Regions from separate parts of the Homo sapiens genome. Here regions 1, 2, 4, 5, 6 and 7 are each reported to be linked to region 3. Evidence: microRNA targets listed by miRTarBase, many of them from high-throughput screens and not tested one by one. Region 3 holds a microRNA gene; each other region holds the end of a gene's coding sequence.

Region 1 (4,234 bases), not on the chromosome of region 3:
CAGGGGTAGAGAAAGGATGGCTATTCGGGATCTATAAATACCCACAAGAGCCAGGCAGGTGACGCATGTCAGACACTTTGGTGTATTATTCATTTCTATTTTTAAAAATGTCCTCCTTCCTGCTTTTCTTGACTTATACCCACTTATCCTTTATTTTTCCATCTTTGATTGAAACTTAAATCTTTCCCTACTCGAAGAAAACTAGCAGTCCAAATCCAATTACTGTATCAGTTCATAAGTGCTACATGGCTCCTGCTGGGAAGTCAGGTGGGAGTGGCAAGGACTGGGGCAAACTGGAGAGCAAATTCTTCTGCTGAAGAGGACAGCCATTCTTCAACTCCAGTTGTTCAGAAGCTCCAAATCTTGCAATTTCTCAGAAAAAGCAAGCAAGCAACCTGAATTTTGATACATGAGTCAAATTTTTAAACAGTGCCTTAATGGAAAAAAAAAATTCTGCAGAACAAACAGATGGAACATACCCTCATGCTAAGCCTTATTCATGGACCATGCTTGCAAGCTTTCATTTACAGGCTCTCGAGATTCCAAGAGCATTTTCAGGATCCTTCACCAAATCGTTGCTCTGCTTATAGTTTCTCCTAACCATCCTTTTCCCCTTGCTTTCCAGAAAGAAATGACGAGCAGGATGTGTCACTAATGCTCCACCTCACCCTTTGGAAGAAAGGAAAGCTGTTTCCTCCTGGTGCCCTGAGCGGGCAGGAGGTGGACCACCCTGGCTGAAATGACACACCTACTCCCAGGAACAGCAGAGGTGGAGGCAAGCAGTGACTCCTGAGAGACATTCCCCACTCACTTTGTGTGCTCTTAACCTTCTGAGTGCTGCTAGCCCAGACCTGTGGACGAGGCAGACCACAACGTGAAAGAAGGACCAGCCCCTTGACCGTTCTGGCTGGGGAATTGTCCACGAGGAAGCCTCTGCACTTCCACACATGGCACAGTTCTGCCTGTGACCTGCCGCCTAAGCTTTACTGGAATTCAGGTTTTGAGACTGAGATGCGTGTTCGTATTTTTCCACTTATCTGTCTTGTCAGCTGGCCGACTTCTCTGTGATTGGTTTTTTAAGTGCCGGGTGAATTTTGGACCTCTGGATGTGCAGCAAGTTTTTATGCAATAAGCCTTCCTTTCAGGTCTCTAAAAGCTCCTGCTCTGATCTGTGGTTTAACACTGTGCAGGGCTGTGGAGCTCTGAGACACCTGAACCCCTACCCATCCCCTGCACCTCCCTACTCTCCCTGCCGAGGCGTCCATAGCATTTCCCTAATAAATAGTTTTATCAGGGACACTCCATGGGGTGGCTTGTCTCTGCCCCAAACAGGGTCTTCACGTTCTAACTGCAGGGAAGAGACTGGTTACTAGCGTAAAGCTGACAAGTTACCAGTTCACCTGATCAGAATGTATTTTTTATAACCACCATCATTCCTTGTCTCTTCAGTGGAAGATATTCTTTCCTGTTTCCCAGAAGAGAGAAATAAAAGTCCTAAATAACTAAGAATGATCAGCGGGAGCGTTGGGCATGATTACTGCAGTGTTTGTTCTTTATTAAAGACAGGGAGTCGTGGCTGTCTCTACATAATACTAACATTTCAGTGAAAAAAGTACAATTGGTTATTTGGTACGTGTAGATTTAACACCCAGACGGCTGACTTGTAACCCTCCCCACTAGCCTTCTGAGCATTTAAACCCAGCCGTCATTCTCTCCCCACTCCACGCTCCCCACTCCTCTGCCACGTTATGTTACGGCACAAAATTAATTTCTGCCCCTGTGATTGGGCCACGGTTGCCAAGGTAACAGTGGAGCTGGAGCTAACTTCCTTCTTTCATCCTTTCCAATTTTTCTATTCCAGAAGACAGTCAGAATAATGCATTCTGTACTACATCCTGCCTTTTGAAACCTAAATGAGTTTTCGTTGATGAAATGTTGCCTTCTCTGATTCATTCACAAAACTGTGGTGGTTCTGACCACCTGTGACGAGGGGGGTCATAATACTTCCAGTGATCCTTTTAATTTAGCAAAATATTTGTCGGTGGAGGGAAGTAGATAAGAATGTATTAGTGTATTTTAAAGTAATAATGATTAAAGAATAACTAAATGACTCTGATTTTGTTTTATCAATCATAATGTGTTAAAGCCCTCTGTGGCTGCCACAAAAGACTAGAATCATGAAATCTTTGTCCAAGCTAAGAAAGGGCTGTCTCTGTGGGTACAGTGGCATTCTCTGTTGACCTAACCAAGCAGCCTGAACCTTGCTTTGTGTCTCGTAAAGGTCATCTCACGGAATCCAATTGCTGCTACCTCACCATGTTGCTGTGCCCTGGTCAACAATAAACATACTTTTGTCCCCCTTCCTAAGTAACTTTGAGAGGACAAGATAGGCAAAGTTTTTTCCCTACATCTCTTTTGGCCAAAAGAATATCTGACCATCACAGAGATCCAGAGAACAGAAACAAGAGCCCCTAAGTCCCAGCCTCTGCAATACACAGTTACCAGATGGGAATGCAGCACAGTGGCACAGAGAGGTAACTACGGAGCCCATGCCCTGGAGGAACTCTGTAGCTGTGCATCATGGAACGCCACAGGATTTTTACATTAAAAAGTTGAATATGTTCCTGCATTTCAGCAGTGCATAATCGAGCAGGAGGCTGGAATCTGGAGACCTTTGTTATTCATTCTTTTTAAGGTTATTTTTTATTAACTGTGCATATGAAATTTCCACTCAATTTAAAAATCCAAATCTTTTTAAGCTTCTTGGAAGAATTTCCTCCTGCTTATATTGTTAATTGCACTAATGAACTCTTCTAGGGTAAATTCTGGCAAACTACCCTTTTTTTTTTTTTAATCACAGAATATTCCTGTTCCCACAGAACTTTGGCACATTCTGAAGAAAATCTCTGCAGTCAATTTTTATCTCCTCTGCTTGACTGCATCTAACTGTTCATCTCTGTTATAAATGGAGCTTCAGCCCTCTGGGTCAGAGACTGACAACCCTCCTTCTTCTTCCTAACCTGTCCTACTCTCCTTCTTTTTCTGCTTTCATTTTAATTTTGGGAAATTTTAAAGTAAAAGTTTCAAAGTTGAAAGATTATAGTGAGTACCCTTATGTCCTTTAGTGCATCAGTTGTTAATGTTTTGCCTTGTTTTCTTTTCTTCCTTTTTTTTTTTTAAGAGAAGGGGTCTCTCCCTATTTTACCCAAGCTGGCCTTGAACCCCTTGCCTCAAGTGAGCTTCAACCTTAGCCTCCTGAGTAGCCAGGACTATGGCATGTACCACCGCACCTGCCTCACATTTTCTTTCTCACTGTAAATACACATTCTTATTCTTGAACCTTCTGAAAATAAGTTGCAGACATCATGAAAATGTAAAATACTTCATCATATTCTTTCTTTTAATAAGAGCATTGTCCTATAAATCTGCAATATTTTCACGCCCATGAAACTGAACACTGATACTGCATAAATCTAATATATGATCCATATTCAAAATTCTCCAGTTGTCCCCAAAATATCCTTTATAGCTGTTTATTTTTAAATCCAGGATCCAATCAAGAATTATACGTTATATGTAGTTGTCATTCTCTTTTGTTTCCTTTAATTGATTAGAGTTGCCCTTTTGTGTGTGTCTGAGTGGTGGGTGGTGGGGTGGTGTTTGTGTATGATGTGCAGTGTGTGTGTGTGTGGTGTGTCTTTCATGACACTGACATTATTAAAGAGTTCAGGCAAGTTTGTGGAATGTCCCACAATCTAGACTTTTTTACTGATTGTTTCCTCATTACGAGATACAGGTTACATTTTTTTTCCCAAGACTGCTACATGTGTGATGTTGTTTCCTTACTACTGCCTCACCTCAGGAAGCACATAATGTCTACTTGTCTCTTTTCTGATATTAGGACTGATCAGGTGTTGTCTGCCTGATCCAATCATTATCAAGTTCCATAATTCATTATTAAGCTCTGAAATTCAGGACACATACATTTATAGAGTGTGAGGCTGTGCATACGTACATTCATCCCTTAATGTTCTCAAGGAGGCCCAGGATCCCCAAAATATTATAAGCATTGCAGTCAGATGATATAGCACTAGCAAAGCATTCATCCCTTTCCATATAACAGGAGGGAGGGGAAGAAGGAAGTTTCCATGTGCAGGCAATACGTGAGAGCATGGGCAAGTGAGGATTTGTATGCTCCCTGTAGCCAGAGGTGAAATATTCAACGCTTTTATTT
Region 2 (4,234 bases), not on the chromosome of region 3:
CCTGGGCTCAAGCGATCCTCTCACCTTGGCCTCCCAAAGCGTTGGGATTACAGGCGTGAGCCACCGCGCCCAGCCAATTCATTTTTTAAGGAAAGAACTTGGAGTTGGTCCCTTGCCTGTGGCAGAAGCTGTGGGAAAGGTGGCAGAGTCTTTGGCATCCACAGATTTCCTGTCATGTCTGAAGCTGGTCTCTGTGAAAGAGAAGAAGTGAGGGCCGGGTGCGGTGGCTCACGCCTGTAATCCCAGCACTTTGTGAGGCCGAGGTGGGCAGATCGCCTGAGGTCAGGAGTTCGAGAACAGCCCGGCTAACATGGTGAAACCCCGCCTCTACTAAAAATACAAAAATTAGCCGGGCGTGGTGGCACACGGGAGGTTGAGGCAGGAGAATCACTTGAACCTGGGAGGTGCAGGTTGCAGTGAGCTGAGATCACGCCACTGGACTCCAGCCTGGGTGACAGAGCAAAACTCTGTCTCCAAAAATAAAAATAAAAAAAATAAAAAAGAGAAGCAGTGAGAATCCCAGCCGCATGGATTCCCTGTTTCTCTTCAGTCTTAGATCCAGCTGCGTCTCCAGCCCTTTCTTCTGTTGCATTGCAGACCTCTATAGCCCTCCAAGAAATTTCCCTTTTGCCCAAGCAGAAGCTGGATTTCTGTACTTTACACAAAGAATTCTGATCAAAACCCAAGCAGAATTCTGCAAATATGTAATGTGTCATCTGTGCAAAAAGCAATGTGTTCTTCATTAATGAAAGTATTTATGCAGTCTGAATGCTGCCTGGAAAGGGTTTAAAAGAAGGAATTTCTGCTGAGGATGGTAGTCCCAAAATGATACAAATAGGAACAGTAGCAGCTGCCTCCATTTGAGTGCTTGCTACAAAATAGGTACTGTGGTAGTTTAGTGAGTTTAGTGGGGGAGCCAGTTTTGTTCCAGGTTAGACTTTAAAGTGTTTTTTTTTTTTTTTTTTTTTTTTTTTTTGAGACAGAGTCTCACTCTGTCTCCAGGCTGGAGTGCAGTGGTGCGATCTCGGCTCACTGCAATCTCCACCTCCCGGGTTCAAGCGATTCCCCTGCCTCAGCCTCCCAAGTAGCTGGGACTACCACCATGCCCGGCTAATTTTTTTGTATTTTAGTAGAGACGGGGTTTCACCATGTTGGCCAGGATGGTCTCGATCTCCTGACCTTGTGATCCACCCACCTCGGCCTCCCAAAGTGCTGGGATTACAGGCGTGAGCCACTGCGCCTGGCCGAAGTTCTTTTTTTTTTTTTTTTTGAGACGGAGTCTCGCTCTGTCGCCCAGGCTGGAGTGCAGTGGCACGATCTCGGCTCACTGCAAGCTCCGCCTCCCGGGTTCACGCCATTCTCCTGCCTCAGCCTCCCGAGCAGCTGGGACTACAGGCGCCCGCCACCACGCCCGGCTAATTTTTTGCATTTTTAGTAGAGACGGGGTTTCACCGTGTTAGCCAGGATGGTCTCGATCTCCTGACCTCGTGATCCGCCCGCCTCGGCCTCCCAAAGTGCTGGGATTACAGGTGTGAGCTACCATGCCCGGCCAAGACGCTACACAAAATTTAAAAATTAGCTCAGTGTGGGGCCTGGCGGGGTGGCTCACATCTGTAATCCCAGCACTTTGGGAGGCCGAGGCGAGTGGATTGAGGTCAGGAGTTTGAGGCTAGCCTGGCCAACATGGCGAAACCTCGTTGCTAATAAAAATACAAAAATTAGCCAGGCGTGGTGGCATGCACCTGTAATCCCAGCTCCTCGGGAGGCTGAGGCAGGAGAATCGCTTGAACCCGAGAGAAGGAGGTTGCAGTGAGCTAAGATGGTGCCAATGCACTCCAGCCTGGGCGACAAGAGCGAGACTTTCAAAAAAAAAAAAAAAATTAGCTGGGTATGGTGGTGCATGCATGTAATCCCAGCTACTTAGGAGGCTGAGGCTGGAAGATCACTTGAACTCAGCAGGTTGGGGCTGCAGTGAGCTGTCATCTCACCACTGCACTCCAGCCTTGGGGACAGAGCAAGACCATGTCTCAAATCCCGCCCCCCACAAAAAAAAAGCCCAGAAATTTAAAAAAATGACTGAAAAGAATAAAAACCCATCACTTATGAGCATATTTTTATTAAAATTATTTTTTTAAACAAAAAAAGTGAGACTAGCATTGTTTTTGTATTTTTGCTAATGTCTTTTACATCTGATTTAATAGAAGACACTGGATTCTTAAGTCGGTGTCTTCATTAGATATGCTGCTTTGGTTGAATATAAAGAAAAACTTTCACATAGACTTGCGGTTCATGAACCCCCTGAAAGGGTTTCAGGTACCCCCTTGTCAGGAATCCTCAGATGATACTTTGAGAACCACTGCAACAAACTATGTTGCTTCTCAGTTAAAAAGTCTATATTATTAACCATTGAATTAGTATTAGAACTGACAATTCTTTCCATCTCCCAAGATTTTTTTTTTTTTCTTTGAGACGGAGTTTCGCTCTTGTTGCCCAGGCTGGAGTGCAATGGCGCGATCTCGGCTGACTGCAACCTCCGCCTCCCAGGTTCAAGGGATTCTCCTCCTCAGCCTCCTGAGTAGCTCAGATTACAGGCGCACACCACCACGCCTGGCTAATTTTTTTATTTTTAGTAGAGACGGGGTTTCACCATGTTGGTCAGGCTGATCTCAAACTCCTCACCTTGTAATCGCCTGATTATAGGCATGAGCCACCATACCCAGCCAATATCAATTTTTAACTTGAGTTCTTAAATTGTCCCTTTGCCAGCCAAGATTATATATATCTTTATTTTTCTAAGCTAAGAAGAGAAAGCAACATGTCATACACCAGGCTTCCCTAACCCTTGAGCTGCGGAGTGGATGCCAGTCCATGGCCTGCTAGGAACCCGGCTGTACAGCAAGAGGTGAGCAGGGTGGTGACCGAGCATTACCGCCTGAGCTCTGCCTGTCACATCAGCGGCAGCGTTAGATTCTCATAGGAGCTTCAACCCTATTGGCGAACCGTGCATGTGAGGGATCTAGGTTGCGCGGTCCATCTACTGCCTCATGATCTCAGGTGGAACAGTTCCAAAACCATCCCCAAGCACACCCCCGCCCCACCCCCGGTCCATGGAAAAATCGTCTTCCATGAAACCAATCCCTGGTGGCAAAAAGGTTGGGGACTGCTGTCATACACAACCAAAGGTCACATTTGTATAGCGGTTTTACATTTTACAAAGCTTCTCTCTGTGCCCACATGATGCCACTTAGTCCTCAGAAGCCCACAGTACAGAGGAGGAAAGTTCAGAGTAGAGAGACAACTTGGCCAAGATTGCCATCAGTACCCAAGCTGTGGAACCAGGACTCAGAACTGGGTTTGATGACTGAATCCCACATTCTTCCCTCTTTCAGCTGCCCACTGCTGTCACACAGGAGAAAGAAGGGCTGACTGCTGTTTTCGGGAGCCGGTGATCCACACTCTGCCTTGAGCTGTTGGATTCCTCGTCACTAAGTGATGCGCTCAGAGGACAACCCTGCTCTGGCCCCGATGAACAAACATTTCACTTTCAAAAGCTGAGTTTTCAGCCTTGGAAGGGGAGACTCTTCATTTATGTTCACTTTGTTCACATACACAAGAGAGAGCATCCGTTCCAGAATCCAACTGGACTTTATTTGACACAGAATACAATATGGCTACAGAAACAGCAAACTGAAAAAACAAAGCAGAAAAAAACACAGTTCCATCCAATTTGTAATTAGGTAACAGCAGGGAAAGTCATTAAATGAATAACAAAACAATTAAGCTTGATGGAAGAAGTCTTTTCCTAGTGCCCATACCTGAAAGACAAAGTAAATTACTCTGATTAATTCCAAGATAATTTCCTGTTTGAGACATAAAACCTGCTTAAACACATAAGCAACTTTAGTTAGAACCTAAGTGATCACAGTGTGCTCCAGGATTAGGTGACGACACTGACACTAGCTTGGCTGTCGCTGTGATTCCCCTTTCCCCTCCCCATCTTACAGGACTTCTTGCCTACTGCCCCCTCTTAGGGACAGGCTCTCCCTCTGACTCAACCATGCCCACCTGACAGGTGCCAGTAGCTGCCTGGTGGTATTAGGGAGGTGAGAGGGAAAAGTCATTGGTGGTTGTGAAAGGGAGCTCCGCCTGCTCACTCCCAACAGGGGCTCAGACAGTTTGAACTTTCGGGCTGCCCTGATCATGGCGGCCTATTTTCACCTGAACTCCAGTACTC
Region 3 (4,234 bases):
TGGAAGGTGGGAATCGGGCTCGGTCCTACTCTAGCTCCTGATGCTGTAATACCAGGGCCCTCAGCCGCCAGGCCATGGCCTGTTAGGAACTGGGCCACACAGCAGGAGCTGAGCAATGGGCAAGCAAAGCTTCATCTGTATTTACAGCTGCTCCCCATCACTTGCATTACCGCCTGAGCTCCACCTCCTGTCAGATCAGCAGCGGCGTTAGATTCTCATAGGAGCATGAACCCTATTGTGAACTGTGTGTTCGAAGGATGTAGGTTGCAAGCTCCTTATGAGAATCTAATGCCTGATGATCTGTCACTGTCTCCCATCACCCCCAGATGGGACTGTCCAGTTGCAGGAAAACAAGCTCAGGGCTCCCACTGATCCTACATGATGGTGAATTGTATAATTGTTTCGGTATATATTACATTGTAATATACATTGTAATATATACCGAAACAATTATATATACTATATATTCTATTATTATTATAACAGAAATAAAGTGCACAATGAATGTAATGTGCTTGAATCATCCTGAAACCATCCCCCTCCCACCCCCTCCCATCCCCCTCCCCAGTCCATGGAAAAATTGTTTTCCCCAAAACTGGTCCCTGGTGCCAAAAAGATTGGGGACTGCTATAATGTCTCTGAAGGTGGCCAGGCAGTTCCAGCTAGAAAGCTCATCTGAGAACATCTCAGCCCAGGGGCCCGTAGGCAGTTCTTTTTTTTTTTTTTTTTTTTTTTTGAGACAGAGTTTTGCTCTTGTTGCCCAGGTTGGAGAGCAGTGGTGCGATCTCGGCTCACCGCAACCTCCACCTCCCAGGTTCAAGTGATTCTCCTGCCTCAACCTCCCGAGTAGCTGGGATTACAGGCATGTGCCACCATGCCTGGCTAATTTTGTATTTTTAGTAGAGACGAGGTTTCTCCATGTTGGTCAGTGTGGTCTCGAACTCGTGACCTCAGGTGATCCACCCACCTCAGCCTCCCAAAGTGCTGGGATTACAGGCATGAGCCACCGCGCTCAGCCCCAATGGGCAGTTCTATCCTGCTCCCCCGCACTGCCCTGCCCTTACCTATTCCACGTCCCAGACCTCTGACTCTGCTCCAAAACCAGCCCCTTGGCCAGGCGCGGTGGCTCAGGCCTGCAATCCCAGCACTTTGGGAGGCTGAGGCAGGCGGATCACCTGAGGTCGGGAGTTCGAGACCAGCCTGGCCAACAAACTGGGGTTTTAGTGAAACCCCGTCTGTACTAAAAATACAAAAATTAACCAAGCGTGGCAGCGTGTGCCTGTAATCCAGTTATTCAGGAGGCTGAGGCAGGAGAATCACTTGAACCCGGGAGGCAGAGGTTGCAGTGAGCCAAGATGGCACCACTGCACCCCAGCCTGGGCAAACAAGAGCAAAACTCTGTCTCAAAAAACAAAAAAGCCCCCTAAAACACCACCAGCCACCCCACCCAGTCGGTGTCCCATTGTCTGTAGGGCCTGAAATCCCAGTTCCCCAGGGCTCACCTGGGGCCCGTGCTCGCCTCCTCTTCCTCTTCCTGCAGGGCCAGAGACCCCAGCAGCTTCCTCTTTGGCCCCTGGCCCTGGCTCTCTCTGGCTCCTATAGCCAGGCCCCCAGACTTCACCTCGGCCTGGGAGAGGAAAGTGGGGGCCCGGGAGGGGCCCAGAGGCCTGAGAGGCTCCCCGCCTGGGTGGGCCGCAGCCCCTCACTGGCTGTGCCACCTTCACTTGCACGGGGAAGGCTGGGCCAGCCGGGGTGCTGGCGGTAGTGTAAGAGGCTGGAGTGGGGCCCCCATAGGGAGACGCTGGGAGCGGCGAGGCTGGATTTGGCTTCAGGGAGCCCGTGCGGTAGGCAGGAGGTGGCGGGGGCTCATATGCCTGAGGAGAAACGCAGGCCAGAAGTCGTAAGCAAGGACCCCACTCCAAGACCCACATTTGTGGAAATGACCCTGGCTGTGGGGAAGCACAGGCTTTTTGCATTTGACAAGGTCCCGTCCTCAAGTGGCTGACATGTTGGTACTTGCAGCCACGCTTCCTCCATGCTGGGGTGCACATTACACACATGGGGGATCGATCAGGCTGGGTCTGAGAGTCCAGAGAAGGGGGCAGGGTGCTGACGGGGAGGAGGGGCAGAGTCACCTGTCGGTCTGGTCGCCGTGACGCATGACCCCGACCCCCATTCAGCTCGGCCAGCGTGCTGCTCAGCAAGTCTATCTCGGCGTCCAGGCTTCCAGGGCGAAGGCCCCCCCTGTCTGCAGGGAGCCCCTGAGGATGGAGCCAGGGCAGGAAGAATGCAAATCACCATAGGCCTTCTCCTGTCCTGGGTCCCTCAGACTCGGTTCTGGGGGATCCCACATGTCCCACCCCACGATCCCGGGTCTCACCTGCGTGTGCTGGAGTACTCCATGGGACCCCACCCACGCCGGCCCCCGATCCTCCGGTCCCCCTGGGGCCTGGTAACACTGCTCAGATGGAAGGGGGCAAAAATTGACCCTGGGGTGGGGCTGGAGTGCTGGGTTGAGGGAAGAGAAATCAAAGGTGGGGTGGCGGAGGACAGGAGGGGTGTATATTTGAGGAGCCACCCTCTCCGCCTCTCGTTACCTCCTCCCCCAAATCTAGGGTCCCAAGAGAGCGCAGGCGGCTGTTCCCCCCGCCTCGGCTTGGGGAAGGGGCAGGAGGAAGCAGCCAGGGCGGGAGGCTGGAGCGGTAGGACAGAGGTGAGCGCCACAGCTGGGTGGCTCTTCTGTCTCACAAGGGCTGCCTTACCTGCTCCGTGGGCCGGTGGTGGCCCCGGGGTGCCGCGGGGGATCGCCCTCCCCTGAGGGGCTCTGGCGGGCTCCGGCTGCTTCGGGGGCAGCCAGGTGGGCCCCGACATGGCCTGGAAAGGGGGACTCCAGACAGCGGTCTTGAAGCCCCGAGCCTCTGGCCTTCACCCCCTCTTCCGTCCCGCACCTCGTTTGGGACTCCAGAAAAGAAAACTTTTTCTGGCTTTTTTTTTTCCTCTTCCTCCCTAATTTTGGGGACGACCACGCCTCCGATGACGTCACCACATTCCTGGGGGAGGGTCACGTGGCCCCCTAGGCCCTAAACTGCCATTTCTCCCTGAGTCAGCCCCCTCCTGCCGAGAGGGGAGGGCTCTCCGGGGGATCCCGAGTCACTGGGGGTTGCGGGCAGCTGGGGATGGGAGGTGCGGGCCCGAGCCAGCCTCCAAGTCCACGGATGCGTCCGGGCCCCGCACCCCAGCCCTGCACGTGGCAGCCTCGCGGCGGGAGGCTGAAGGCTCCGATCTCCACCCCTCTGCAGAGCTCTCCATTCCCACCCCCTCCCTCTCAGCTACCCACCAGCACTGCTCAGCCAGCCTGTAGTGTTTTGGTCTTTTATTCATGGTCAGCAGAGTTAGAAAAATAAAACAGAACGAAAACATCACCACCCCAGTGGGCCGGTGAGTCTGGCCAAAATGGGGAAACTGAGGTAGCCCAGAGTCACAGAGGAGGCCTGGCCCCTAGCATCAAGGCACCAGTGAAGGGAGGCTGCGGACTCCCTCCCCTGCACGGTGGGGACAGCCACCCAGAGTTAGTGTGCTGGGGTCCCTCTGCCAAAGGAGGTGGGCGTGATGCCCAAGCCCAGGATCCCCTTCAAACCTCCCCTGGGCTCCACGTCCCAAGGGCAGGGCCACGGGCCACAGTGGCCTCCTCTTCCTCCTCCTCCAAGGATCAGGATAGGCCGCCTGCCTGGGCCCTCTCTACCTAGCCCTGGAGGCAGGGGCATCACAGATCAGTGCAGGTGACTGGAGTGACCCCATGAACCAGCAGCGTGGGGCCCAGGTCTCGGGTTAGAGTCTCCAGTAGCGCCAGGTAGCGGGGGTATCGGGCGGGATCGGCTGGCGGCCGAGGCAAGTACAGGAAGGTGAGGGCTGTGATGGGGCCCTCAGCATCCCCACCCTCCGGCCCACCCGGCCCTCCTCCTGTGCCGCGCCCCTGCTGGGCCCGAACCAGGGCGTTGGCGCTGCGTGCCAGGGCCTCTGCCTCTGCGTCTCCCCGCCCACTGTTCACAAAGTCCCCTTCCTCCTCCGCCTCGGGTTCCCCAGCCCCGGCCCCCTCGCCCCACACCACCTCCTGCACCTCAGCCCGGATCCTCAGTTGGCTCAGCAGTGCCCGCAGCCGCCCCTCGGCCGCCCCAGGCGCCTCCCGAGGCCCCAGGCACAGGAAGATCCGGAGCCGGGCGCTATGCCAAGCGGG
Region 4 (4,234 bases), not on the chromosome of region 3:
TATGAGGTACATAGTGATGTTTTGATACATACAATGTATAGTGATCAGACGGGGTGATTGGCATATCCCTCTCAAACATTTATCATCTCTTTGTGTTGGAAACATTCAATATCCTCCTTGTAGCTATTTGAAACTATATATTAACTACAGTCATCATACAATGGTATAGAACACTAGAATTTATTACTTCTGTCTAGCCGTGATTTTGTATCCTTTAACAGATTTCTCCTTATCCTTCCACACTTAATATTTTTAATATTAATTTGTTCTGCCATGTCTGGTACTTTCATGTCCTTAAATATTGGCTTCTGTTTATTAGAAACAACATCACTTGAAACTTTTATGTAAACTTTTTTGAAATATTAGGAACTAAAAGAAAATGTTTCTTCACACAGGTGCTGATGGGAAGGGTGCCTGACAGGGGAGGCCGGCCGAATGAAATTGAACCACCACCTCCAGAAATGCCCCCTTGGCAAAAGAGACAAGAAGGCGGCGGTGGAAGGGGTGGTTGGGGTGGTGGTGGTGGAGGTGGTGGTAGAGGAGGTGGTGGGGGTGGGGGTGGGAGAGGTGGCTGGGGGGGTGGAGGAGGAGGTTGGGGAGGTGGTGGGGGAGGGGGAGGAGGGTGGGGGGGAGGAGGAGGAGGTGGTAGAGGAGGTTTCCAAGGCAGGGGAGATTATGGTGGAAGAGGGGGTTATGGTGGAAGAGGGGGCTATGGTGGAAGAGGCTATGGAGATCCATATGGAGGAGGTGGTGGTGGTGGTGGTGGTGGTGGTGGAGGAGGTGGATATAGAAGATACTAAAAACTATAAAAATTAGATAGCAGTGCTTGCTTCTTTATAGATACATTAGAAATAGTGTTCCAAATAACATACTTGAATATCATCTTTGAAGTAAACACCATGTTAGACTCCCTGGTGATACCACTCTTGAATTGGTTAATATGTAAGAACATTGTTTTTTATTACCAGTTGATCTCTCAAATGAAGTGATGACTTTTTCCATATTCTGTGTACCCTTGAGCATGTTGTGTCTTTTTAAAAAACAAAAAAAAGAACAAAAATTATTTTTTAAAATGTAAATATTTATTACCATCAGACTTGGAAAATGGAAAGTATTTTATTGTCATGATTGAATTTAGATTGTTACCTGTATTTTGTTCAGGTTTGAGACATATAAAAGACCCCACCTGTAATAGAAAGGAATATAGACCCTTGCCTCACCTGTATTGCTGTGGATGTGTTTTGTGGGTTTTTCATTCGATTTTACAAAATAGGGAAAGGCACTTCCAGTTGTATTTAGTAGGCAGTTGTTGTGAATCATTTTTTTCTCTTATAGGAGGAGATTCCTCTCTAGCCATGTTTCTGTTAAAGTTTCATTAATTGAAGCCCAAGTTTACTTTTTACTGTACATACTTATTTTCTAATTGGATTTGAAATCAGCATGATTTTGTTTGACAAAGCAAAGTTTAAGATTGAGGTCAGAAATACTTTAATGGAGCAAAGACACATACCAACTTTACATGACGGTGTGAGAAATAGTCCTATAAACTGGTCTCTTCATCATTTATGCTCTCACTTTAGATATCCAAATATTAAAAGGCAGGCTGACCTGTATCACACAGAATTAAGGCAGTAATTTTCTGCTTCAGTAGATCAAGGGTAGGGCTAAGGCATCCTGTGGTAATTCTGATTCACAGCTAGATTTGGGAAACACAAAGTTAGGGAATGGCTATATGTGATTTGCTAGTTGGAGCAGTCAAAGTCTTAGCTATCAAGAGTTGTGAATTTGAATCATGGCACTAGGTCAGGGGTGCTATGGATTGAAATGACCTTAGTTCTCAAGGAGTGATTTGTCCTCATTTGTCAAATGAGGAATGAGACACTTACCATCATCTCAGGTTGTTTCTTAAAGACCTAAATACAAATACAATTTGTTAAAAACTTACAGAGGGCCTATTTTGAATGCTTTAAGATGTAGGCCAAGTAATGTATTTTTCTCTTAGTGTAGAAAGTTAAGAGAAAAAGAGCTGGTACCATAAATTTTTTCAATCTTAGTGTAAAATCTGTATCTCATTGTAGGCTTCTGGTCAATACCTATACATAACAACTTAATGTGATCTAACCAACTCAACTGATAGAAAGCTGAATTGTTCCCAGTGGACAAGTGGTATTTGATGTTTAGCAGGTTTTTTTGTTGTTATTTTTTTGGTAAACTCTGTGGTAAAATCTAAAATAATGTTAAAACCCTAAAAGTAACTATTGAATATTCTGTAATCTTAGACATGTATTTTTCAAGCTAACCCTTTGAAGAAATGTGTTCAAGGTAGGAAAATATAAAATTTTTTGGTTATTTGTAAATTTATTTTTTGTGTGTTTATATTTAATGAAAAGATGTAATTTCATTTGTGATAGCTGAAAAAAAGGCTTTCCATAATTAAGAAAATACCTTTATCAGTAGCTATGAACTCTGAAAAATAATTTTTAAAAACTTTTAAGAAAAAAACTACTTGAGTAAAATATTTCAAGAGTTGTTTAAAAATCTTCTTTAAAACCTTTACATTTCTGCCTCACTTCTTTTTTGGTAGCATTAGTTGCTGATGAAGGAGATTTACAACTACTTTCAACTTTTTTACCACTAAAGGTTTATGGTAAATATGGCAGAAACAATAGTTTATCAGTTTCATTAGATTTTCCATAAGATTTCTTTGTACCTTTATAGGAGTGCTGCTTGGGTTATTCACTACAATCACTTATTTCCTATCAAAGTTTAGCACTTGCTCCTGGAATCGTGTTGGAGCTGAAACCACTCCTATGTACACATTCCTATAAACCTTAATTGAATGAAAAGCTGAATCAGGTAGACTCTTAATATTTTACTCTTTCCTGTAAGGTGGGATTTTCCTGATAATCTTTGTTCAGTAAAAATTTCTTTTGTAGAACAGTTTGCTGAGCAGTATCTGGAATAGCAGGAAGGAAATTTGGGGCCTTAATGGGAAAGGCCATAGTGTGAAAATGTTTTATAAATTGAGTGCAATACGACATGGAGTATGATGAATGGCACTCCACTGCTTCCTAAAATCCAACACTTTTTTTGATACCTCCTTTTCATTCTTTTTTGCCTGGTTCTCAATTTCATTTTTTAATTACCTCATTGTCCTTCCCCTTTTTTCTTCTCTTTTTGTCCAGCCTGGTACCTAATAGCAAATATAGACATGATCTTACTGGGAGTTTCTGCCTAAAGTAGTCATCTTTCCTCTCGACCGTATAAAGAGCATGTATTCTGTCTATAACATAATCACCACACTATTACTCATAAGCACACATCAAAAGGGAAACAAGGGTTTTCTTTGAACTTACTTTTGTTTTGCAGATCAGGGAAACCTTGCCTCATTAAACAGAAAAAGGAAAACATTTTAAATAAAAAACATCTTATTACCTGTATCTGTGACAAGAGGAGGCATGACAACCTAAAAAAAATTTGTGACCAGAAAAATGTCCTGAGCAGTGATACTATCTATACCTTGGAAGGAGCACAGGTTAGAGAAATGTGGGGATGAAAATTGGGGAAGGTGAGCAGGCAGTTTAATCTTGCCTTCAGGATCAGGCTGTCAGTGTGACTTTATTACTTTGTATGAAGTATTATGAATTGCCCAAATGATAAATACACCCCCATCTAAATGTTCCAGAATGCATTCCACAGAGGAATTTGAGTGACTGAAATTTTTCCTCTTTCTTCATTGGTGTGGTTAAACAAAAATTAGCTGGGGATTAAGGGAAAATTGTGGCTATGTCTGATCATTCTAAATAATCATGACCACAAATAAATTGCCCTGAGTAGGTCTGTAACCTGGATTGAGCTGTCGTTACCAATTTTATCCATAGCTTCAAAGGATTTCTTCTTTACATGCTAGTTTGCTTAGATGAAACTGTGGAATTAAAAGCCACAGAGAAGGGACAACCTCAAGTCTGTCTCCTTTAATGTTAAGTATTTATAGACTTAATATTTGGGGACCACTGTAAGTTATGAATAAGATGGAAAGAGATTGAATATTTCTGTAGTGTTACTTCTTCGTGTTGTAAAAAGATGTAGAAAATTTTAAACTGAATAGCTGCTTTGCCTTTCCTTCCAGGAAAACTCAATTTGATTAATAGAATAGGGCAGTGGTCTTAGCTGTGGAATATAGGAAAAATTCAGGTAAAGTGTTTACGGGGTCACGAAGCAGAAGAAACACAAG
Region 5 (4,209 bases), not on the chromosome of region 3:
CCTGCAATACTATATTAACATTTACGGGGTGTGGAGCTATGTATTGTTTCTATTTTAGTTTTTAAACTTGCAAAATTCATGATAAAGAGTCATCGCTGTGACCTTGGAGACTGACAATCTTCTATATGTTTTTTTGCAGATTGTTAAAGAGACATGAAAATAACTTATCAGTGCTAGCCATTAGTAACATGGAAGCTTCCTCCACCCTTGCCAAATGCCTTTATGAACTTAATTTTACAGTTCAGAGTAAGGAACAAGAAAAAGACTCAGAAATGCTGCAGTGAAAAATAATTCCACTTACACAGTGGGGGACTCAAAGTCAGCCACATTTCACATACTGTTACTGAAGAAAGCACCAAGTCTTAATGGAACAAAGACCATAGAATGAATTATTTTATCTCCTCCCATGATGCTGAGAGGAAGCTTCGTATTCTGATCTCTGAGTGAATCCCTTTGTTCTCTGTTTAAAAAAATCTAAAAAGAAAAAGGAAAAAAAAAAAAGAACTGCTGTGGGATTGTCAACCAGCTTATCTGCAGGATGTTTCAGATCTGATAAATCCTGATGGAAACTGGTATGATCAGAATTCAGTACCATCCACATTGGAATATACATGGAATATTGTAAAACCTACATGAGCAGATGAAATAGAAGCATTAAATATTTTTATCTATATCCAAAAAGGAGCACATTTTTATATTTACAAAACCGTTTAAGCTGGTTTGAATAATTTAAAAAAGTTTCAGCACACCTATACCCCCGATCTCAGAGGGGGCCACCAATATCTAGCTATGGATCGTGTGTTTTGTTTAGAAATCAGTAGCTTGGTTTTCTTACTTGAGCCAATATATTTTCACTTATTTATTATCATAAAAATTTACCAGTCTGAATAGATCTTGTAAATATTTGTGAATAGAATGAATACCTTTCATGCCACTGCAGCCACTGGAAATACATTCTGTGGTGTCCTAGAAGCATTATTGGTAGGTTCTAAAGTTTTCTAGACTTTCCTGTCAATTGTAAGTAATTGTGATATATTCTATGCAGTGGATGAATGTTCTTTAAATTTGTGTAAATACTTCTGCAAAGGTACTGATGCTGTAAAGTCAAAACAGTTTTGTGGAACTGTGATTTTTTTTTCTTTTTTCTTTTTTTTTTTCTTTTTTTTTTTGTATTATACACCTTGTAGAACTCATTTTGCTGGCTGAAAGAGTATGGAATAATATATCTCATGTCATTTTTTAGAAGAAAAACTATTTGAAGGTATTTTTTGGTTTTCCTTAACATGTATCCACTGTAAACGTTTGTCGTGTACAAGCTCAGAGCTTGGACAGAATTTTTTGTATTTGTAAATTGGTTTAAATACATGGAATTTTATACAGGTTTTCTCCTGTGTTATATATGCATTATGTGCAGGTATGATATTTTCTTCACTACTTTTTCTATCTTAATATAGTGTGGAATTTTATTGTATTATTCTTCCATTCTTAATACTGTACCACATTCCTGCTCAGAAACTGCTCACTTCCTTAAATTGTCTTTTTTCCCCCAGCGTGAAATGTATCCATTTATAACTGCCTATTGCCTGTTCTATTAGCATCCAAAAATGTGGAAGGCCTCCCAACCACCATTTCTGCTGTGTCCTTAGGATGTGCAGTAAAAAATATAGACCTAACAGTTTATGTTATAGAATGGCTTTATTTACTTTGGTGACTGTTTATAGTTTTTAAATAAAAGACTGAACATTTTCTTGAGTCCTTCATTTCTGAGTATGCTTAAGACATCTTAAAAATATAGAGAGAATTCTAAATTCAGCTGAAGGCAAGGTATAACGGTCACCTACCTATTTGATTATATGTTGATTGATAACATATTAAATAGAGAACAAATAAGAGAGGTCCTTTACATGACAAATTTGCATGAAATAAGCAGATTAACCAAGTATTTATTTTTCATCTTGTTATAATGCAGAGCAAATGTAGAGAACAGCAAATGATTGATGCAGTTAAAGCTCAATATGCCTTTTTTTACTGGATACTGTACATTTGGCTAAAAGCTTTTATTGTTTGATGTTGTGTTTCTTGACTGTTTATTCAGAATCACAGTGTATCCAAATCTTCAGCTTGAATTTGGAGGCAGATTCTTAGAGTGAAAAAGCCTCAGTTTCCATATTAAAAATGTTTTAAATATTTTGATTGAATTAGTACCAATGTAAAATCTAGTTTCTTCCTGAAGGAGGATCCCTGGCGCTGTCCTGCCATGTCTCAAAGGAATGTTTGAGAAACTTCATCTAATATTAGTTATAAGGTTGTGGAATTTATGCTTGGCCCACCTTCCAAGACTGGCACTGCCCAACAGACACCGCTGAAATCATGTGGGTATCCCTAGGATGGCCTTCAGAGCCCTCAAACTTACAAGCACCTGGTAGTTGACATCATATGGGGAATTTTCTATTCACCGTACTTATCCAAAAATCTCTTTTAAAAAGTAAATTTGTGCAACAACGTTTATTTGAAAGATAATGTCTTCTCAAAATCAGAAACTGCAGTGGTAATTAAATTAATAGAAAAGAGAACAAACTGCAGGTTTAGAAAAATGGTTTTCATATTCACCATTCTTCCACCTCATTGAATTGCATGCTGTAGTTCTAGCTTTTCTGCTATAATATGTAAATATGACTGTAGCCTTTTAAGCTTCAGTCTCAGCAGAGAATTTCCTAAATGCGTTTGACCTAATGAAACTGATCATGGCTTCCCACTTAGGTTTTTCTTCTTATAGCTTTATAGAACTATATAATAATATGGACTTGCTGTGTAATGGAATTAAAGTGCTTTTGCACAATAAGTTCTGCAAAACCCTCTCATTCATGAAAAGGTGCTCCTTGCTAGACAGAAACTTGCTGATTTACAGTATTGTTATTTTTGTCTAAAGTTCTGTAAATACATGCTTTAATGTTATCTTTGAGAAATCTATGTAAATAATATAGTCTACAACATAGAGACTGTATAATTCTGTGTTATATATGTGCCTAGTGCTCTGTTGGCACTCAATAAATTTTAAGTAACAAAATTGATAATCATATAGCGAAGGCATATTTTTCTTCCAAGCTCAAGTCAGGATTGTGACTATATATTAATGAGACTCAGTAATCCAACCCACACCTGAGAACTCGTCTCATTACTTTATAGTCATGTCATGTATGTTTTTTTAACCATGAAATGACAATAAAATGATTTTTAAAATGAGAATGTTTTGGATAAGTGACTTCTGTCCTGATCTTAACCACTGCTGTTAAATACCAAACAGAGGAAACATGATGCAAAGCAGAAGCTGCTAAAGAGCAGAAGTGGAGCTATGGGGTTAACCACGTGGGACACCTGGCACTGTCACTGTTACCAAATAGTAAGTTAAATGAGAACAAAATCCAGTATCTATTAGGAAATTTTAGCCGATCACTTTCATACTGCTTGACTCTTCTCAGACTCATACAGCAGTCAGTCATACGACAACTACACTAGCCTTCTCCAGAGGCAACAAAACAAATGAAGACAGTACCACTGTCTAATTACATTACTACACTGGTATTTGTAACTCTTTCATTTCAATTATATAGCCTCATTTCCTATTGGTAAAAATTAAGTCCAGGATTGCCTTGTGTGTGGATAAGAAACACTAAGACACACTGGCATATACTTAAGTAGATCCATTTACTTTGATTAATAAGACTACATTTAAATATTAAAAGAAAAGGCTATTATTAAGTCAAGTCCTGGCTCCTGTGGATTTTAGTCTGAGATACAACCCACATTGTATACATTTATTTAAAACATAAACTGCCTTTAGAAAGTAACTTAATCAAAAAGTTAAATTATATGAAAAGCCTCATTCCCATCTGCTTCACCACCCGTGTCCCCCAACCAGATAACCACTGTTCACATTTCTTGAGTACATCTCTGGTGTTGATTACATACAAGTGAATTCAATATTTTCTCTTTTTTACACAAAAATATGTCATACCATAAATAATATGCCGTACTTTCTTGAAATTTTAATATTTTAAGTTTATTCCATATTGGTACATAGCTTTCTCATCCTTCTTACAGCTATACAATATAGTTTTCCATTGTATGGGTATACTATATTTAACTAGACCCCATATCGATGGACATTTAAATTGTTTCCAAAATTTAAGGTGCTGTTTTAAACTAGTC
Region 6 (4,234 bases), not on the chromosome of region 3:
CAGGCCCCCTTCCGTGGCCTGCAGTGGTGTTTGTTTCTCTTGCTGCAAAGCTTTGTAATTAGCACTTTTATACATCTTTACCTGCATCTGTGTGCTGCCCACCCACATGTGATTTAGCATCCAGAATGGGAGAGAATGGGTTTTGCTGCACTGGGAAAGTGGTTCTCTCCTGCTGTCTGCTTCTGTGCCCTTCACATAGTCCTGATGAGGGGGTCAGGGTCAATGATAATGGAGCTGAAGATGCCACATTGCCTTCCTGCAGCCAAACCAAGTGAGGGAAGAGGGGGGTGTGATTTGGAACCCTGTTCACTTGTAACTCTCAGGGCCTCAGAGGGCCTGGGAACTATGCAAAAGGAACAGGGTATCACAGACAAATGCCCTACCTGAGGTTCTCATCTCTTGGCCCCATCTCTTTCAGGTGGTGGAGGAGTCATCCTTCCTGACCCTGGACATGCTGGAGTCCTGTTTCCCTTATGTCCTGCTTCGAAATGCCTATCGGGAGGTGTCTCGGGCCTTCCACCTAAACTGAATGCCTGCCAGTACCCACTGAAGAGCCCTTTGGACCTTCCTAAACCCTTGCCATAGTGGAAGCTGTGGTCACTTTCGCAGGGGGTGGGAATGGGGTGGGGTCACTAAGGAGAGAGGGTCAGGAGCCAGAGTTGATGAGCAGATCTGTGGAAGAACAATCCAGGGCTGAGAAATCGTAGAGCAGTGAGGCAGGCTGGGAGCATGGAGGACAGCTTATGGAAAAAGTTAGGGCGTGGGGCCACATGTGTGAATTTTACAATGAAAAAAGGAGTAACGTACAAGTATATTTTCTATCTTCTGGTGACTTGAGCTTGAGCTCTGACAGGCATGGGCCTCTCCGACCTTCATCACTATTCTTAGGATAATGCTGGCGGGCAGAGATGATCAATCATCATATTAAATCATAATGAGCTTATAATCCTCCCACTGGAGCTGCTATTGTCTCCTGCACATTCATTAGGACCATTATCTTCTCTCTTCCTTTTTCAAATGTGTTCAGCAAACATTCAACCTGCTCCTACTGCAGAGTAGCAGCAAAGGAGCCCCTCTTTTCCTTTGTGGGGCTCTTCGAGGGGTCATTGGGTCTCTTCCTTTGCCCCCAGCTTGACTGCGTTTCCTACTGGGGCAAGGAGGAAGTGCCCTTCAGAGATGTTCACTGCCCACCTACTCTACTACATTGTTTGTTACAAGTTCTCTCTTGCTTTAACCCCTCCTGCTTTGATATCTCCACAACCCAGAGCAGAGGGTCAGTTAGTCTCCGTCAATTCTAGGTTACATGACAACTGATTGGCCCAGACTTAGGTGGGTTTTCCCTCCTGTACCATTTGGGGGTACTCTGCCTTTTATTGGGAGGGACTAATTTAACCCCAAATCCTTTTGTCAGCCTGGGTATAGCTGTTGCTCCAGGAAGGGATTTCTCTTCTGGATCTTAAATTTCACAGACCTCATTAGGTTGTATGGCCCTGAGAGTGGGTATCCTTGAGGGAGTACAAGCTGTTTCAACTTAGCCCTTTTCTGCGCTAATTAGAATTTCAAGCGTCACAGAGCCTGGGGGCTTTCAAGATAGCACTAAACTAGGTTTACTTAACTCCTTGGCAGGAAATAGTGGCCCCCATGCATCACTTCTGTGAATCCACTGCCAGGGAGAAGTGGAGAAACAGATCATATATGTCACAGGTCTAGAGTGGTTGGAATTGACAAATATAATTAGCTAGTTGGTTAATTAGGGTCATGTCCATACTTTCATGATGAAAGGGAAGCAGTTGTCGGTTTTCAGCAAAAACGATTCAGCCTTCCTGAAGCCTATTTGATAGCTGTTTTGGGGTTTTGTACATGTGTTTGCTTTTTATTTCTTGAGACCCAGGCTTAGTCAATACTTTCTTAACTTGGCACCCATAATCAACATACAGATTTTTCTTAGCAACAGTTGTCTGCTCTTTAGGGTGGAAGCGATAGAGAATCCTGCTTCGTGCATCAGCAAATCCTCCTTCCTTGCTATGGGAAGGGCTTATGTTCTAAAGGGTGATTCAGTGTCAGGCTTATGAGACTGAGAGTAAAGTTGATGAGGAAGAGGAGGCTCAGAAGTATCTGAACAACTACTCTATATGTTTATATTTTTCTGCTTGAGGGGATAGAGATCCCTCCTCCATCTGCATCTGCATATAGAACTGCTTAAGAGGACAGCAAGACAAGTTGCTGCAGGGGGATGGAGGGTAGACAGAATGCCTTTTTTTAAAACTGAAAATTTTATTGAGATACTTAATCCACCTGCACTTGTAAGAAATCATACAGAGAAATTCTATTTTCCTTTACACAGTTTCCCTGAATGCTAACATCTAGCAAAACTGTAGTACACTGCCACAACCAGGATAACTGACATTGATATAATCTACTGATCTTGTTCAGATTTCCTTCCCCAGTTTTGCTTATGTTCATTTCTCTCTGTGTGTGCACGTGTGTGTGTTATCTATTTCTATACAGCTTTATCATGTGTAGGTTTGTGTATCTGCCACTGCAGTCAACATACAGAACAGGCCGGGCGCAGTGGCTCACGCCTGTAATCCCAGCACTTTGGGAGGCCAAGGCAGGTGGATCACCTGAGGTCAGGGGTTTGAGAGCAGCCTGGCCAATATAGTGAAACACCGTCTCTACTAAAAATACCAAAACTAGCCGGGCGTGGTGGTGCATGCCTGTAGTCCCACTACTCAGGAGGCTGAGGCAGCAGAATAACTTGATCCCGGGAGGCGGAGGTTGCAGTAAGCTAAGATCCTGCCACAGCATTCCAGGCTGAGTGACAGAGCGAGACTCTGTCTCAAAAAATAAATAATAATTTAAAAAAAGATACAGAACAGTTCCATCACCACAAGGATCCCTCGCATTGCTCTTTTATAGCAATTTTATAGCAATTTTCTCCTCCCACAACCCCCTTCCCCATCTCTAGCTCCTGGTAACACAGATATATTCTCTATTTCTAAAATTTTGTCATTTGATATATCTTTTTGTAAACATATAATTATACACACATATTTCTCTACCACTTATACTTTTTCAAAGTGCTTTCACATCCTTATAGCAATTCTGCAAGGTAGCCAGGGAAGGCTTTCCTATTTCAGGTCAGAAAACAGATTTAGAAATATTAAATGACTTAATGAAGGTCACATGTTTAGCAGTAGAACTAGAACTGGGACCCAAGTCTGATGTTCAGTCCTAGACCTTTTCTACTTGCCCGGTCTGCCTCTTCACAAGGGAAGACTTGGGTTTTAGAATCCAGAGACCTTAGAAGGAGCAAATTGGAGAAGGTGAGGACATGATGGCCTTTACTACCGGAAGCAAAAAGTGAATGTCCAGAGGTGAAGGGACAGAGAAGTAACAGGACCCATCAGCATTTCAGGCAATTTGCTTCCTTTACCAGGAGGGTCTCTGTCCTCTTACAACCTGGGAAAAAATAAGTTGTGTCCCAGGTTGTAAGTTTGCTTTACTTAGGCCCAAAGGAACTAAAGAATGGATATCAGAAATCTCACCCCAATTGTTTTGTCTTACAGGCACAGAATAGGTTCTAGCCTCAGCATTTTCATTAATGTAGTGTTTTTATTAACATCTCCATTAACTTGCTTGCAGCAATGAGATGGAATTATGCCTCCCACAAGGCCTGGGGCAAGATACTTGCATAGGTGCCCCCTTTTGTTTGGACAGTAGAAACACTGCCTCCCCTGCCATGGTGTTCAATCCAGTTGGCAGGTGGGCCAGCTTCAAAGTGCAGAAGGAACTGGGTGTGGTGGCTCACCCCTGTAATCCCAGCACTTTGGGAGGCAGGCGGATCGCTTGAACTCAGGAGTTTGAGACCACTCTGGGCAACACAGTGAAACCCTGTCTCTCCAAAAATACAAAAAATTAGCTGGGCATGGTGGCTGTTGTCTGTAATCCCAACACTTTGGGAGGCTGAGGCCAGTGGATCTCTTGAGCTAAGGAGGTTAAGACCAGCCTGGTCAACATGGCGAACTCCGTCTCTACAAAAAAATACGAAAATTAGCTGGGCGTAGTAGTTCCTGCCTGTAGTCCTAGCTACTTGGAAGGCTGAGGTGGGGAGGATCGCTTGAGTCCGGGAGGCAGAGGTTGCAGTGAGCGAAGATGATGCCATTGCACTCCAGTCTGGGTGACAGAGCAAGATCCTGTCTCACAAAAAAAAAAAAAAAAAAAAATGCAGAAG
Region 7 (4,212 bases), not on the chromosome of region 3:
CTGACAGGTATACTCACTGCCCCATGTTGTCAGGACCTGAGACCCTGGGCCCCTGTCGCCCAACGTCCTCTGTTCCTGCCCTCAGGCCCTGCTGTCCCCTGCAGCCTCCCATCCCCTGAGCAGGGCTGCCTGGGCAGGCTGTGGCCCCTGTCTGATTGGAGCCAGCTCTGGGTGGCCCTCATGTGGAGGGAAGAGCACCAAGGCCCCACCCTCCCCTGGGCCTGCCTGGGTGCACGCTCAGGGGCCTCTGCTCTTGCCTCCTAGGCCAGGATATCTTCACCTGTGGACTGGTCGGGGCCCTGCAAGGTGCCCTGCTGTGCAGCAGCGCCATCCTGAAGCGGAACTTGTACTCAGACCTTAAGAATCTTGATTCTAGGATCCGGGCACAGAAGAAAAAGAATTAGTTCCATCAGGGAGGAGTCAGAGGAATTTGCCCAATGGCTGGGGCATCTCCCTTGACTTACCCATAATGTCTTTCTGCATTAGTTCCTTGCACGTATAAAGCACTCTAATTTGGTTCTGATGCCTGAAGAGAGGCCTAGTTTAAATCACAATTCCGAATCTGGGGCAATGGAATCACTGCTTCCAGCTGGGGCAGGTGAGATCTTTACGCCTTTTATAACATGCCATCCCTACTAATAGGATATTGACTTGGATAGCTTGATGTCTCATGACGAGCGGCGCTCTGCATCCCTCACCCATGCCTCCTAACTCAGTGATCAAAGCGAATATTCCATCTGTGGATAGAACCCCTGGCAGTGTTGTCAGCTCAACCTGGTGGGTTCAGTTCTGTCCTGAGGCTTCTGCTCTCATTCATTTAGTGCTACGCTGCACAGTTCTACACTGTCAAGGGAAAAGGGAGACTAATGAGGCTTAACTCAAAACCTGGGCGTGGTTTTGGTTGCCATTCCATAGGTTTGGAGAGCTCTAGATCTCTTTTGTGCTGGGTTCAGTGGCTCTTCAGGGGACAGGAAATGCCTGTGTCTGGCCAGTGTGGTTCTGGAGCTTTGGGGTAACAGCAGGATCCATCAGTTAGTAGGGTGCATGTCAGATGATCATATCCAATTCATATGGAAGTCCCGGGTCTGTCTTCCTTATCATCGGGGTGGCAGCTGGTTCTCAATGTGCCAGCAGGGACTCAGTACCTGAGCCTCAATCAAGCCTTATCCACCAAATACACAGGGAAGGGTGATGCAGGGAAGGGTGACATCAGGAGTCAGGGCATGGACTGGTAAGATGAATACTTTGCTGGGCTGAAGCAGGCTGCAGGGCATTCCAGCCAAGGGCACAGCAGGGGACAGTGCAGGGAGGTGTGGGGTAAGGGAGGGAAGTCACATCAGAAAAGGGAAAGCCACGGAATGTGTGTGAAGCCCAGAAATGGCATTTGCAGTTAATTAGCACATGTGAGGGTTAGACAGGTAGGTGAATGCAAGCTCAAGGTTTGGAAAAATGACTTTTCAGTTATGTCTTTGGTATCAGACATACGAAAGGTCTCTTTGTAGTTCGTGTTAATGTAACATTAATAAATTTATTGATTCCATTGCTTTAACATTTGAAATTTATTTTGGTTTTTTGTTCAAGAAAACAAAACTATTATTGTGATGGCATTTGCAGAAGCTCAGTAAAACACTATATACTGAATAACACCAAAATAAGCTTTAAAAAAATAAAATTAAGTAATTATAAAGTTACAAAAAGTGGGGTCTGCGCCTTCCCAGGCCAGTGTGCTGAGCTCTCCATGTCGCTGTTGCCGCCCGCACCTGGCCTACCGCGGCACTCCCGGCTGCATGCTCTGCTTGGCCTTGCCATGCCGGTGGACCTCAGCAAGTGGTCCGGGCCCTTGAGCCTGCGAGAAATGGACGAGCGGTCACAGCACCTGCTGCATGTCACCTACGCCCGGGCGGTGGTGGACGAGCTGGGCAAAGTGCTGACGCCCACCCAGGTTAAGAATAGACCCACCAGCATTTAGTGGGATGGTCTTGATTCAGGGAAGCTCTACACCTTGGTCCTGACAGACCCTGATGCTCCCAGCAGGAAGGATCCCAAATACAGAGAATGGCATCATTTCCTGGTGGTCAACATGAAGGGCAATGACATCAGCAGTGACACACTCCTCTCCGATTATGTGGGCTCGGGGCCTCCCAAGGGCACAGGTCTCCACCGCTATGTCTGGCTGGTTTATGAGCAGGACAGGCCACTAAAGTGTGACGAGCCCATCCTCAGCAACCGATCTGGAGACCACCGTGGCAAATTTGAGGTGGTGTCCTTCCGTAAAAAGTACGAGCTCGGGGCCCCGGTGGCTGGCACGTGTTACCAGGCTGAGTGGGACGACTATGTGCCCAAACTGTACGAGCAACTCTCTGGGAACTAGTGGGTTAGCTTGGGGACCTGAACTGTTCTGGAGGCCCCAAGCCATGTTCCCCAGTTCAGTGTTGCATGTATAATAGGTTTCTCCTCTTCCTGCCCCCCTTGGCACAGGTGAGACCTGACCAGTCAGATGGTGGTTGAGGGTGACTTTTCCTGCTGCCTGGCCTTTATAATTTTACTCACTCACTCTGATTTATGTTTTGATCAAATTTGAACTTCATTTTGGGGGATATTTTGGTACTGTGATGGGGTCATCAAATTGTTAATCTGAAAATAGCAACCCAGAATGTAAAAAAGAAAAAACTAGGGGGAAAAAACCAGGTCTACAGTGATAGAGCAAAGCATCAAAGAATCTTTAAGGAAGGTTTTAAAAAAAAAAAGATTGGTTGCCTCTGCCTTTGTGATCCTGAGTCCAGAATGGTACACAATGTGTTTTTATGGTGATGTCACTCACCTAGACAACCAGAGGCTGGCATTGAGGCTAACCCCCAACACGGTGCATCTCAGATGCCTCAATAGGCATCAGTATGTCGCTCTGGTCCCTTTAAAGAGCAATCCTGGAAGAAGCAGGAGGGAGAGTGGCGCTGCTGTTGTTGGGACATGGCCATCTAGACCGGCAGCAGCGCTCGCTGACAGCTTGGGAGGAAACCTTAGATCGGTGTTTGTTAAACTGATCATTCTTCACGGGAGTAAGAAAAGCTGGTCTGGAGTTGCTGAACATTGCATTAATTGTGCTGTTTGCTTATAGTTGAATAAAAATAGAAACCTGAATGAAAAAAAAAGTTACAAAAAGTGGCCATCTACCGACTGGGCAAACAAAAAAGAACAGTTTCAACACTCAGTCATTTATTGCACATGGAGTCTGATGAATTAAAAGAATACCAATCAGAGTGTCCGGGGCTGGCGTGTTGGCAGTTTGAAGTACCATACAGCTCAGGGCTGGGTGCTTTGGCTCATGCCTGTAATCCCAGCACTCTGGGAGGCCAAGGCAGGTAGATTGCTTGAGCTCAGGAGTTCAAGACCAGTCTGAGCAACATGGCAAGACCCTGTCTCTATAGAAAGTCCCCACCCCACCCCCAGAAAAATTAGCTGGGCATGGTGGTGTGCCCCTGTAGTCCCAGCTATTCAGGAGGCTGAGGTGGGAGGATCACTTGAGCCCGGGAGGTGGAGGTTGCAGTGAGCCAAGATTGTGACACTGCACTCCAGCCTGAGCAAGAGAGTGGGACCCCGTCTCAAAACAAAACAAACAAAAAAGACCAAACATATAGCTCAGACCCAAACCCTTTACAGAGGAGTTTCTAAATTGGGAGATTTGGCTAAATACAATGGCTCATGTCTGTAATCCCAGTATTTTGGGAGGCTGAGGTGGGATGATTGTTTGAACCCAGGAGTTTGAGGCTGCAGTGAGCTGTGATCACTGCACTCCAGCCAGAGTGACAGAACGAGACCCTCCTCTAAAAAAACAAAACAAAACAAAACAAATAAACAAATTGGGAGATTTGGTAAATTCACACCTGACCTGTAGAACTACCTGAGTTGAGAGTCACCCTTGGCTCTGGATGTACCGTTTAATTGCAGCTAAAAATCTCTACCCAGGATTCCTACTGGAGCAAGTCACACCGAGCCCAACCTTCCTAGCAAGAGTTTTCACAGCGTTCTAGCTCTCATCACACTTGCAGCATTCTGCATCAGTTTACCCTGTACAGTCAAGCACAAAAGAAGACACCAGCATCACCAGCAGGGGAATTCTAGAGGTTTAGAATTCTATCAGCACATGTGTCACTAAAAGCCATTATGGGGGGACTATGTCAGAATATATGTAACTAGCTGTCAGGTCTTTCCCAG

Evidence for each region. The annotated mature microRNA hsa-miR-6875-3p reads AUUCUUCCUGCCCUGGCUCCAU and lies in region 3 at 2,268-2,289, opposite strand. An mRNA with a match to its seed (bases 2 to 7 or 8) in the 3' UTR can be bound and repressed. Matches are read on the target gene's strand: a 7mer-m8 pairs with bases 2 to 8, a 7mer-A1 pairs with bases 2 to 7 and ends in A, and an 8mer does both.
Region 1: the mRNA of MOB3B is a reported target of hsa-miR-6875-3p. Seed matches in the 3' UTR shown: 8mer at 674-681, 7mer-m8 at 2,766-2,772, 7mer-A1 at 2,896-2,902 and 7mer-m8 at 4,132-4,138.
Region 2: miRTarBase lists RBX1 as a target of hsa-miR-6875-3p. Seed matches in the 3' UTR shown: 7mer-m8 at 3,374-3,380.
Region 4: the mRNA of FAM98B is a reported target of hsa-miR-6875-3p. Seed matches in the 3' UTR shown: 7mer-A1 at 2,306-2,312.
Region 5: the mRNA of ARID2 is a reported target of hsa-miR-6875-3p. Seed matches in the 3' UTR shown: 7mer-A1 at 346-352 and 7mer-A1 at 1,243-1,249.
Region 6: miRTarBase lists NCKAP1L as a target of hsa-miR-6875-3p. Seed matches in the 3' UTR shown: 7mer-m8 at 677-683.
Region 7: the mRNA of RETSAT is a reported target of hsa-miR-6875-3p. The part of its 3' UTR that is shown has no 7-base or 8-base seed match.

The regions. Positions count from the first base shown.
Region 1 is chr9:27,327,008-27,331,241 of GRCh38, reverse strand. MOB3B (MOB kinase activator 3B) reads left to right here. Exons shown (of 4, transcript NM_024761.5): 4 at 626-4,234. The coding sequence ends at 655. Among named protein-coding and RNA genes, the nearest start is that of EQTN, 32 kb to the right of the region's middle.
Region 2 is chr22:40,972,057-40,976,290 of GRCh38, reverse strand. RBX1 (ring-box 1) reads right to left here. Exons shown (of 5, transcript NM_014248.4): 5 at 2,982-3,815. The coding sequence ends at 3,803. Among named protein-coding and RNA genes, the nearest start is that of RBX1, 23 kb to the right of the region's middle.
Region 3 is chr7:100,866,135-100,870,368 of GRCh38, reverse strand. It overlaps MIR6875 (microRNA 6875), which reads right to left and starts at 2,333; the gene lies at 2,262-2,333. SLC12A9 (solute carrier family 12 member 9) reads right to left here. Exons shown (of 14, transcript NM_020246.4): 14 at 3,359-4,234. The coding sequence ends at 3,764. TRIP6 (thyroid hormone receptor interactor 6) reads right to left here and starts at 2,982. Exons shown (of 9, transcript NM_003302.3): 1 at 2,763-2,982; 2 at 2,381-2,508; 3 at 2,136-2,261; 4 at 1,503-1,874. The coding sequence starts at 2,871. RefSeq lists an enhancer at 2,195-2,294 and silencers at 2,735-2,884, 3,245-3,334.
Region 4 is chr15:38,483,860-38,488,093 of GRCh38, forward strand. It overlaps FAM98B (family with sequence similarity 98 member B), which reads left to right. Exons shown (of 8, transcript NM_173611.4): 8 at 396-3,851. The coding sequence ends at 800. Among named protein-coding and RNA genes, the nearest start is that of FAM98B, 32 kb to the left of the region's middle.
Region 5 is chr12:45,904,795-45,909,003 of GRCh38, forward strand. It overlaps ARID2 (AT-rich interaction domain 2), which reads left to right. Exons shown (of 21, transcript NM_152641.4): 21 at 140-3,243. The coding sequence ends at 284. Among named protein-coding and RNA genes, the nearest start is that of SCAF11, 84 kb to the right of the region's middle.
Region 6 is chr12:54,542,157-54,546,390 of GRCh38, forward strand. NCKAP1L (NCK associated protein 1 like) reads left to right here. Exons shown (of 31, transcript NM_005337.5): 31 at 419-4,234. The coding sequence ends at 529. Among named protein-coding and RNA genes, the nearest start is that of PDE1B, 5.3 kb to the right of the region's middle.
Region 7 is chr2:85,339,434-85,343,645 of GRCh38, reverse strand. It overlaps RETSAT (retinol saturase), which reads left to right. Exons shown (of 11, transcript NM_017750.4): 10 at 1-7; 11 at 265-1,691. The coding sequence ends at 404. It also overlaps the pseudogene PEBP1P2. Among named protein-coding and RNA genes, the nearest start is that of RETSAT, 13 kb to the left of the region's middle.